Homo sapiens: one gene and its partners. Changing the gene in region 1 together with any one later gene gives a genetic interaction. Each region holds a gene or a part of one and is shown in the gene's direction. Other genes may lie near its edges. The genes, in order: PSMC6, NDUFB2 and GATB.

Region 1 (3,653 bases):
AGCTATTAAAAGGTACATAATCTAGCTTAGAACTTTGAGGCTAGAAAGTATATCCCTTTATATAAGAGAGAGAAAAAGAATTCTATCAAATGACCATTCTGAAGATAGAACATATCTATCTGTAGACAATACATTTCATGGCATTAGACATATAAAAGGTGTGTGCTATTTTTTTTAATGGTTAGAATTTTTGTAAAATCTGATTCTTAATATTCTTAGTTACTGAATCAAATGGATGGATTTGATACTCTGCATAGAGTTAAAATGATCATGGCTACAAACAGACCAGATACACTGGATCCTGCTTTGCTGCGTCCAGGAAGATTAGATAGAAAAATACGTGAGTTAAGATTCTTTACCTACTGTCCATTTCCCTTTGTGCCCATTTCTTTTTCCATACTTCACTTCACCTTCCACTGTATTTTAAAAAAGATAAAACTGGACTATAAAATAATTTTTTATTTTCAGATATTGATTTGCCAAATGAACAAGCAAGATTAGACATACTGAAAATCCATGCAGGTCCCATTACAAAGCATGGTGAAATAGGTAAGGAAGTCATCTATTTTATATGTATTTACATTTGGTAAATGAAGAAAAATACTTTTAGAAATTACTGATAGTTTCCTAAATCTGGTTTTAAATTCAGCAAATGTGGTGGTTTTAAATTCAGCAAATAGTTATTGAGCATCTACTATAAGCTAGGAACCATTGTAAGTGTTTTGTAAGGGCTGACAATATAGCAAGGAACAAAACAGACAAATTTCTGCCATTAGAGAACTTATATTCTTGTTAGGAAAAAACAGATAAAGTTAGTAAAACAAAGTATAATAGATGATGATAAGTGCTATGGAGAAAAATAAAGCAAGAAAGTGGGGGGCGGGCATGGTGGCTCACTCCTGTAATCCTAATGGTTTTGGAGGCCGAGGCAGAAGGACCGCTTGAGGCCAGGAGTTTGAGGTTGCAGGGAGCTATGATCATGTGACTGCACTCCAGTTTGGCAAGACGCTGTTTCAGGGGAAAAAAAAAGAAAAGGGGGATAGGAAATTAGGGAAGTGCCAGGACCAGGCATGAGGATATGTTTTTAAATGACAGGGAGGATTAGCACAGGGAAGGCCTTACCAAGAAGGTAATTTATTTTTTAGAGACAGGGTCTCACTCTTGCCCAGGCTGGAGTGCAATGGTGTGATCCCAGCTCACTGCAACTTCTGCCTCCCAAGTTCAAATGATCCTCACACCTCAGCCTCCTGATTAGCTGGGACTACAGGCACACACCACCAACCCTGGCTTGTTTTTTTGTAGGGATGGGGTTTCACCATGTTGCCCAGGCTGATCTTGAACTACTGGGCTCAAGCAATCTGCCCACCTCGGCCACCCAAAGTTCTGGGATAACAGGCGTGTGCCACTGCACCCGGCCTGGTTGTTTGTTTGTTTGTTTTTTAAATTGATTCCTGTTAAATGCTGACAATAGGTCAGATAAAGAGTTCTCAGAGTAGACCTTTGGATTTAACTATATGGAGGTCATTGGTAATCTTGTCAAAAGTAGCTTCTTGGGAGTGGTGGAGGTGAAAGCCTATTTCAGATGGGTTTCAGAGAGATTGGGAGGAGAGGCATTGAGTTTAGACATTTCTTTTAAGAGTTCTACAGAGGGGGCAGAAGAAGTAGAAGGGGAATGCCGATGAGGAGTTGGCAGAGTTTTCTATAAGATGGAAGAGTTTATGACCCCCCTGCCCTTTTTTTTTTTTTTTTAATAATGCTACTGGGAATGACCTAGGAGAAAGAGAAATTGGCAATGTTCTTTCCTTGAAGAGGGATTGGCCCTATATATATGTGTACTTTTATGAGACTGGAGGAAAGGCAGAGTACATAGATGCTTATGATGACAGGTTCTTAGATAGTGCAGGAACTTGTGGAAGTGTTTTTTTCTGAATGCTTCTGTTTTCTCAGTGAAGTAGAATGCACGTTCAGAATGAAGATAGGGAAGTGTTCTTAGAGATTTGAGGACAAAGGAGAAGGTATAAAGTCATTATCTATGGAAGTGAGGGATTGGACTAGGGTGCAGGCCAGTAAAACATGGCTTGTGAACCAAATTCTGCCTGCCCTGTGTTTTTGGAAACACACAAAGTTTTGTTGTAACCCAAGCATGCTCATTTATCTGTTGTCTATGGCTGCTTTCCTACTGGAATAGCTGAGTTGAATAGTTACAACAGAAACCATATGGCTTGCAAAGCATACAGTATTTACTCTCTGGCCCTTTACATAAAAAGTTTGCTGACCTCCAGACTAGGGAAATCTAGTATAATTTCCAGGCAGCCTTAAAAACTCTTTAGAAGTTAATGGTCCAGAATAATGACAAATAGCTGATTGTTGAATTTCACTATCTTCATTGCCCCTGTTAGAGAGTTTTGAGCTGGAAAGACCGAACTGAACAAAGGATGTCAATGTATAGGTTTCTTCCACAAATACTGAGCTCTTGCTAGATGCCAGATACTGTGCTAGCCTTGGGAATTCTTGCTCTCAGGAAGCTTACAATGAACTTAAACCTGATTAAAGACAATTCATGAATATATGTGTGATTTCAAATAGAGAACGACATGCCCTATATTGCCTGACCAAACGGTGCATCATCAAAGTTATTCAAACTGTAGTAGCCTGTGCTGTCTTACTTCTCTTCCTATTCTGTATCAGATCCATTGTTGCTACCCCAATCCTATAGCTCTTTGATTCATGTCTGTTATGTGGGTGGATGGAGAACTCACTTTATTACTGCTACCATAGATCTGATACTTCACCACTTGAATCTTGCACAGAAACCAGAGAAGCTAGCTAATGCATGCTGTAGCATTTAAAAATTCCATGTGATACAATTATGTATGATTACATTTCAGTTTTGCTATACTTTATATTTGGCTTGTATGATTAAAGTAAACAAAGTAAATTCCATTGTTATAATTGGTTTTGAGTGTTATAGGTTTATTCAAATCCAAGATTTGATTACAGTTTTGATAAGAGTCACAGCTTAACAGGTATCTGGAGTTCACATGTGCATAGCTATTTCACTGTATAAAAATAGATTAAGATATTTTGAGATTTTGGTGATATTTCCTGTTTTTAAAGTTTCAGGGGTGTGTCTAATTCTTCTTGGTGCTGGTTTATTTAACAGAAGTCTTAGTTTTTGGATATTAATATTGTGGAAAGTTAACAGAGCTGATGTCTAGCTGATCAAACTCAAAGTAAGCTCTTCAGTTTAAATTTTCGATGTGGGCATAAATCAAGTAAAGGTCTAATTTTTAAAACTAATTTCCAGTATTTTTTCTAAACAGATTATGAAGCAATTGTGAAGCTTTCGGATGGCTTTAATGGAGCAGATCTGAGAAATGTTTGTACTGAAGCAGGTAAGGGTTTAAAGTACAGTTTTACTATTGATTTTGATTTTTAAAATTTGCTGAAACTGTTTTGAGTTTATCTGAAAGCGGAGCATAGACTTTGCAAGGATTTGGGTTCATGCTGTTCTTTTAGGAATCGATTCCAGGAAATAGGAGAAGCAGGGCAAGTGAGATGGAAAGAGGGAAAGCTAATATGAGGGTGCACCATTGAGGTAGGTGCTGTAGGAAAGGGAGGTTAGATCTCAGAGAAGCATACAGAATGCCTTC
Region 2 (3,653 bases), on another chromosome or scaffold:
GGCTCCCGGTGAAGGCAGCTTCAGTGATTGATTGCTTAGCTTCCAGGCCTTGTTTTTACTTGAATTTTGCTCTTGGTGGATTCCTTCCTTTTGTGCCTGGTCAGTGATGTTTGTAAAAATCTTAAAAATCTCATCTAGCAGCAGAGTTGTTAATTTGGAGGGTTGTTCAGGGTATCTAGTTTGCCACAATGCAGTTCACAACCTGGTTTGGAACATAACATTGTGAATTAGGTGTTGAGTCTTTGCATTCCTTAATCATGGCAATCCTTGTCATTGTTCCTGTGATATAATTGCAGACTTTCAAATCTTTGTTCCAAAAGGTTTCCATTTTGCAGTCCCTACTTCAGGTTATGATTAAAACAACATGTCACTCTAGCAATAACGAAGCGTGGGGAGCTGCTAAGATGGGTTTGAACTATAATGCTGGCATCGGCATTACTCAGATCTTTTTTGTTTTTTTGATACAGAATTTCGCTCTTGTTGCCCAGGCTGGAGTGCAATGGCACGATCTCAGCTCACCACATCCTCTGTCTCCCAGGTTCAAGTGATTCTCCTGCTTCAGCCTCCTGAGTAGCTGGGATTACATGCATGTACCACCATGCCCAGCTAATTTTGTATTTTTAGTAGAGACGAGGTTTTTCCACGTTGGTCAGGGTGGTCTCGAACTCCCGACCTCAGGTGATCCGCCTGCCTCGGCCTCCCAAAATGCTGGGATTACAGGCATAAGCCACCGTGTCCGGCCTTCAAATCTTGTTTTAATCAGTTTTACTGCTGGGCACTTATACCTAGATTGTATCAAAAAGCTATCAAAGAAGAAGGCTCTTGGCCGGGCACAGTGTGGCTCACGCCTATAATCCCAGCACTTTGGGAGGTCAGGGCAGGCGGATCACCTGAGGTCAGGAGTTCGAGACCAGCCTGGCCAACATAACGAATCCCTGTATCTACTAAAAATACAAAAATTAGCCGGGCATGGTGGCACATGCCTGTAATCCCAGCTACTCGGGAGGCTGAGGCAGGAGAATTGCTCGAACTGGGAGGCAGAGGTTGCAGTGAGCCAAGATTGTGTCACTGCACTCCAGCCTGGGTGACAGAGTGCGACTCCGTCTCAAAAAAAAAAAAAAGCTCTTGTTATACTATATTGAATGATCCTGCATGGTTTATTTACATAATGTAATATCTATATGCACAGCTAGATCCTGAATGAATAATATAATTGGTATATGAGGACATTACGGAAACAGTATGCTACGTCATTCAAGTTGTAAAGTGGCGATATTTGGTAGGACCTTTTAAACATGATACTTAAAAAAGTACATATATACACACATCTGCAAAAACTAAAAATCACCTTATTCATAATTAGTTATTAATACCTTAAATAGAGCATTCCAAATAAAAGTGTTAAATTTTGGATGACTATTTAGAAAAAAAAATGGAATTTATCATTTCAATATGGTAACATTGGTTTTATCATGCTGGTTGGAATTCTAGTTAAAAGTTATGTCTTTGATTAATAAAAGGAGAAAATTGTTAATGGTGTGTGTCTGTAGGCAACAGCTTAGGCTTTGCCATCACACAGCATCTCACTGGTAAATCATTAATAATTACAGGCCTTATCATAACATTATGAAAATTAAATGAATTAAAACTTATAAAATGCTTAGTGTGGTATCTGGCACATGGTAAACACTCAATAACTACCAGTCATCTTTTAGAGTGGGGGAGGATAAAAACAGTCTGCCAGCCTGGCAACATAGGGAAACCCTGTCTCTACAAAAAAAATATAAAAATTAGCCAGGTCTGGGGGTGTACACTTGTATGTAATCCCAGCTACTTGGGAGGGAGGCTGAGGCAGGAGGATTGCTTGAGCCCAGGAGGTGCTCAGTCAGCAGAAGGATCGCTTGAGCTAAGGTCACGCCACTGCACTCTAGCCTGGGCGACAGAGCCTATCTTTAAAAAAACAAACAAAACAGCCGGGCACGTGGCTCACGCCTGTAATCCCAGCACTTTGGGAGGCCAAGGTGGGTGGATCACCTAAGGTCAGGAGTTCGAGACCAGTCTGGCCAACACGGGGAAACCCCGTCTCTACTAAAAAAAAAACAAAAATTAGCTGGGCATGGTGGCGTACACCTGTAGTCCCAGCTACTTGGGAGGCTGAGGCAGGAGGATCGCTTGAACCCAGGAGGCGGAGGTTGCAGTGAGCCAAGATTGTTCCATTGCACTCCAGCCTGGGTGACAGAGTGAGACTCTCGCAAACAAACAAACAAAGAAAACAAACAGTCCTAGCTAACATGTATCAAGAACCACTGCCCTGTTACTGTTCACGAATCTGTGCATTATGAAGACAAGATATTTTAATGCACTTTTCCTACAGGTACGAATTTCTGTGCTACATAAAAGAGAATATGGTTTACAAGCTGATTCTTATCTAGATGAAATTGGTAAACATATTTTATATAGGAATTCTCTTAAAAATTTTTTATCCACTTCTGTTTATTAGCATATATATGGCTGATGAATAGGTTTTAGGAATAGCCCCAGTAGGTGCAAATAATTTAAATTAGATGCAACGTATAATATTTATACTCCAACTGAATAAATTGACTATAACTCTTATGGACTCTGTGCCACAACTTGTCAAGTGTCTGAATGAAAAGAAGAAAAAAGAAACACGTATTCAAACTTACTGTTTAAAGTTCTTTGTTCAGAGCCATTAGCATATTTAATAGGATTTGCGAGTCCTCTCTCCCATATGGTTGTCTTTTAATAAAGATTGTAATAGGCAGAGGACATAATTTGCCTCAAATAGATAGCTAAACAAAGCAAAATTAATTTATTTTTCTGAGTAAGTTAGTGACCTGCTAACAAGTTCACAGTCCCTTAACTAAAACCTTTGGGGCTAGCACCCCAGAATCAACACATTCAAATTTCTAGTGCAAAATAATGAATCTTCACTAATTGAAAACCAAAATTAGCCTCTTGTCAGTTTTGGTCAGTTTTTGCTGCTACACATGAAGCAAGCTTAGTAAAAAGTGAGTATTTCAAGGGATTGTGAACTTCTGTCTATATTTCAGTGGAGATGAGAAACATTAGCGTTGGTTCTAGGATGTAACTCAGAGGAGTTTTGGATGACTTAACGCTTTGAGAATGTAGCACGCTGTCTGCCATGTTGTTTTGTCTTGCAGTGCCGGTGGTGGTGTGCACATTGAGCCCCGGTATAGACAGTTCCCCCAGCTGACCAGATCCCAGGTGTTCCAGAGCGAGTTCTTCAGCGGACTCATGTGGTTCTGGATTCTCTGGCGCTTTTGGCATGACTCAGAAGAGGTGCTGGTAAGTGCAGGAGAAGAGCACTTGTCGTTTTTTGGGTGGGGGAGGGAGGATGTATTAATAGCTTGTTTATTTTTCTGTTGTAGACCATTTTTCTGTCTGGACATCGCCCTTTGCCACCACTTTTTCCATATGTATATACAAGAATCCTGTTATTTAATGAAACATGTTATCTTCTCACCTTTTTTTACACGAGGATGTATATTTAGGTGGTCCGTTTCTTATGGTTTCTGTTAGGTTGCCATCTTAGGGAGACTAAAAGCTCATTTTTTTTTTTTTTTTTTTTGAGACACAGTTTCACTCTGTCACCAGGCAGGAGTGCAGTG
Region 3 (3,653 bases), on another chromosome or scaffold:
GAGCCTTTGAAGCCCATCCCAGACTCCCAGGGTAAGGGCCCTGGGTAGGCAGCAATCTCAGACCGAGATATTGGGCCCAGCCCCACTTCTGCCAAGTCATGTCATCTGCATGGGGTTGCTTAATCTCTCTGAACCTGAATTGTCTCAACACGGAGTGAGCCTGCCTTCCTAAGGCCCTTTCCAACACCAATATTCTACGATGGCAGTGAGAAGGAAATATAGTGTGTAAGGGAAGGATTATTATAAACAATCTTCTTGATTTTTTTTTTTTTTAACTTAGAGATTGAGAAAGGTTGTTTCTAATTATTGCTTGACTGGATGAAAGGTATAATCAAAATATGATGCTAAATTAGTGTGTTTTTCCTAGACTATGAAATTCAGAGGCAAATCAATGAACTTGAGAATGGAGGTGAAATTCTGAACGAAACACGCTCATTTCATCACAAGCTGGGGTGAGTTCGCATTGCTGAGCGTCCTGACCACAGCCGGGGGTGGTGCGAGAGGGCTGGGCTCAGCCACTGACCAGCCATGTGACCTTGAAGGAGGCACGTAGCGTCTCCACTTTTAGGTTTCCTCATTAGTACAATTAGAAAAGTACTGTACCCTTCATGCCTGTAATCCCAGCACTTTGGGAGGCAATGGGCAGATCACGAGGTCGGGAGATCGAGACCATCCTGGCTAACATGGTGAAATCCTGTCTCTACTAAAAAAATACAAAAAATTAGCCGGGCATGGTGATGGGTGCCTGTAGTCCCAGCTATTTGGGAGGCTGAGGCAGGAGAATGGCATGAACCCGGGAGGCGGCGCTTGCAGTGAGCTGAGATGTTGCCACCGCACTCCAGCCTGGGCGACAGAGCGAGACTCCTCTCAAAAACAAAAAAGAAGGCCAGGCGCCGTGGCTCACGCCTGTAATCCCAGCACTTTGGGAGGCCGAGGCGGGCGGATCACGAGGTCAGGAGATCGAGACCATCCTGGCTAACATGGTGAAACCCCGTCTCTACTAAAAATACAAAAAATTAGCCAGGTGTGGTGGCGGGCGCCTGTAGTGCCAGCTACTCGGGAGGCTGAGGCAGGAGAATGGCGTAAACCCAGGAGGCGGAGCTTGCAGTGAGCCGAGATAGTGCCACTGCACTCCAGCCTGGGCGACAGAGCAAGACTCCGTCTCAAAGAAAAAAAAAAAAGAAAAGTACTGTACCCTATAGGGATATAATATACCCTAGGGCTGCCAGGAGGCTTGAAGTGACCCAGACTGTGCCCAAGGGCTTCGTTTTAGGCCCTTTCCTTCTCTGCTTCCAGCTTACCTGCCTTGTGGCAAGAATTTTTACTTCCTTAATCTATCAGATCTTTCCCAGCTGAAGCTAGAGGCGGAACAGAGTGAAGACCTGGTTGTAGAGATGCCTTATTTTTGTTTAGATAACTTGGGCCTTAATTTTCTCACTCAGAATTTTGAGCATTGTATACTTAAAGCAGAATACTGAAAAAAGCTCAAAAGCCGAGTTTGAGCTGGCTGAAAGATGGCTACATTGAAGTCATTTCCTTTAAAAAAAAAAAAAAAAGATCATTCTGTACATTTCGCTTTCTTTATGATTGTTTTTTGAATGTATTCATTTAAGGTTTCCCCATGGAAGTCCACAGAGTTTGATTTTGCCTGTGCCCCTTATTGGTAGGGGAGCCCTTCCCCACATATAGGCTGGCCAGTGCTGCTTTCAATGTTTAATGTTTTCTTATTTAACTATTGCAGGTGCACCATGTCAATGAGAGACAAAGAAGGAAAACAGGACTACAGGTGGTTACTCCTTATGGCAAAATACCGCTATATATCGGGGGCTGGGGCGTATTTCAAGTTCATTTAAAGTTCAACATAATGATCCTGAACAATTTTTAGAAACCACTTTTTGTCATTGTTGTAACATGATGGGACATCTAGACTTCCTCTTTGATATGCATACCGAGAGAAGTACTAGTTTCTTGATTTGGTAGCCTCAGATCTGGTGCCTTGTTTGACTGATTCAGCTTTTGGAAGAACTTGTTCATCCACTGCTGTGTCAAAGTTGTCATAGTTGAGCTAGGAGGATGGCTGTAGAGGTTGGGGCCTAGGCTGTTCTTATTCTAATGTTCAGTAACTGATTCAGTAATACGCTGAATGAAGCTCCTTGAGAAGAAATGAGAAAAGAGATGTTGATAGCGTATGTTGATGGTAGTTCCCTTGAACCTCATATGATGCTATTTCATGATAAATTAAGTTGAACTACTTAATATGAGACCCACAAATAAAGCAAATGCTAAGAACAGGCATAAGATAATTGAAACTTTTATTTTTTTCTCATTGAGTTTAGCAGGTTGAAGTTTTAAGCAACAAAGTTGTGAGATCGGCCACCTTTCCTTTGTGAAGGGCAGAAAGATGCAAATGTAGCTATTATCAATGAGGATCAAAATTTGCATGTTTATGTGGGAAAGAAGAAACTCATAAACGCTTAGCATGAACCTCACCCCAAGAACTCCCATTGTCTGTCTGCTAGAGTCAAAATTATTTTAATTAACCGTGAACTTCCCGGGTGAGTCTGTTCTCCCAGGGGCCCACTTTATTCCTGAGTGTTGCTCCCTCCCCTGTTGGTGCGCCTTCCCCTGAGTGTGGAGTCCGGCTTTCCATCCGCCCGTGGCTTCAGCATGATGCCTCAAATGATAGTGAGCTGCAGGAAGCTTCCCCTGGGTTTCCTCTTGCCCTCAGAAGCCAGACTAACTCACAGAAGAGATCTGGCAGTGAGCCGATGGGTAGCGTGTGCTTCGAATCCATTCCCTCCAAACCACCACTTCTTCTGAATACCCTGCTTTTTCTACATAAGCCCTTTGACAAAAATGGGCAGAGAGTAACCATTAGTGCTGGACGAGAACAGAGGGAGGGACATCTTGTTTCATAAGATTACATGCAATGGTGCAGCTTTGACACTTAAAAAAATTAATTCCCTTCATTTTTTAGAGCAGTTTTAGCTTTACAATAAAATTGAATGGAACGTCCAGAGTTCTCACATACTCCCGCTCCCCACTCTCCCCCCAGAGTCTCCTGTTAATGTGCCACAGTAATGCAAGATGCTCATTTGTTACAATGATGAAACCAATCACACTTCCTTATTGGCTAGAGTCCATGGTTTACACTAGGGTTCCTTGTTTGTGTGGTACATTGCGTGGGTTTTGACATATGCACAATGACATGCATCCACCATCGTGTCACACTGAGAAGTTCCACTGCATGCCCTGTGCTCCACCTCTTCATCCCTCCCTCCCTCTTCTCCAGCTGTCACATTTTGTTTAGGCAAAATCTATTCATTTCTTCTATTTCTCAAGGGTAAATTTTTTTCCTTTCATTTTTTATTTATGTAAATGCTGCTAAAAATAGTAGAAATGTTGAAATGGGGGGAAAGTCATCTTTCCTTCTAATAAGCAAATTGCTCTCATTTGGTCCTGTTTTTTCCAGCCTGTGTCTTTATGAAGACATAGTCCTGCATACATATGGATGTTTCTGTCAACAGTGGATTACGTATGCTACAGGAGTCCCATAAGATTGTCATATGGCATTTTTACCGTCCCTTTCTTGTTCAGACATGCTTAGATACACCAATGCCATTGTGTTACAGTTGCCTGCAGGATTTGGGACA

The links.
Region 2: changes in PSMC6 (region 1) and NDUFB2 together harm fitness more than expected from each alone (negative genetic interaction), as found in Homo sapiens cells (one large-scale study listed by BioGRID).
Region 3: changes in PSMC6 (region 1) and GATB together harm fitness more than expected from each alone (negative genetic interaction), as found in Homo sapiens cells (one large-scale study listed by BioGRID).

The regions. Positions count from the first base shown.
Region 1 is NC_000014.9:52,720,642-52,724,294, forward strand, and holds part of PSMC6 (26S proteasome regulatory subunit 10B), read left to right. Parts: intron 1-219; coding exon 220-340; intron 341-468; coding exon 469-549; intron 550-3,163; coding exon of another isoform or gene 3,164-3,186; exon of another isoform or gene 3,187-3,233; intron 3,234-3,323; coding exon 3,324-3,395; exon of another isoform or gene 3,396-3,399; intron 3,400-3,653. UniProt on the Homo sapiens protein: Component of the 26S proteasome, a multiprotein complex involved in the ATP-dependent degradation of ubiquitinated proteins.
Region 2 is NC_000007.14:140,699,681-140,703,333, forward strand, and holds part of NDUFB2 (NADH dehydrogenase [ubiquinone] 1 beta subcomplex subunit 2, mitochondrial precursor), read left to right. Parts: intron 1-3,185; coding exon 3,186-3,330; intron 3,331-3,653. UniProt on the Homo sapiens protein: Accessory subunit of the mitochondrial membrane respiratory chain NADH dehydrogenase (Complex I), that is believed not to be involved in catalysis. Complex I functions in the transfer of electrons from NADH to the respiratory chain.
Region 3 is NC_000004.12:151,701,984-151,705,636, reverse strand, and holds part of GATB (glutamyl-tRNA(Gln) amidotransferase subunit B, mitochondrial isoform 1 precursor), read left to right. Parts: intron 1-367; coding exon 368-452; intron 453-1,741; coding exon 1,742-1,786; intron 1,787-3,653. UniProt on the Homo sapiens protein: Allows the formation of correctly charged Gln-tRNA(Gln) through the transamidation of misacylated Glu-tRNA(Gln) in the mitochondria. The reaction takes place in the presence of glutamine and ATP through an activated gamma-phospho-Glu-tRNA(Gln).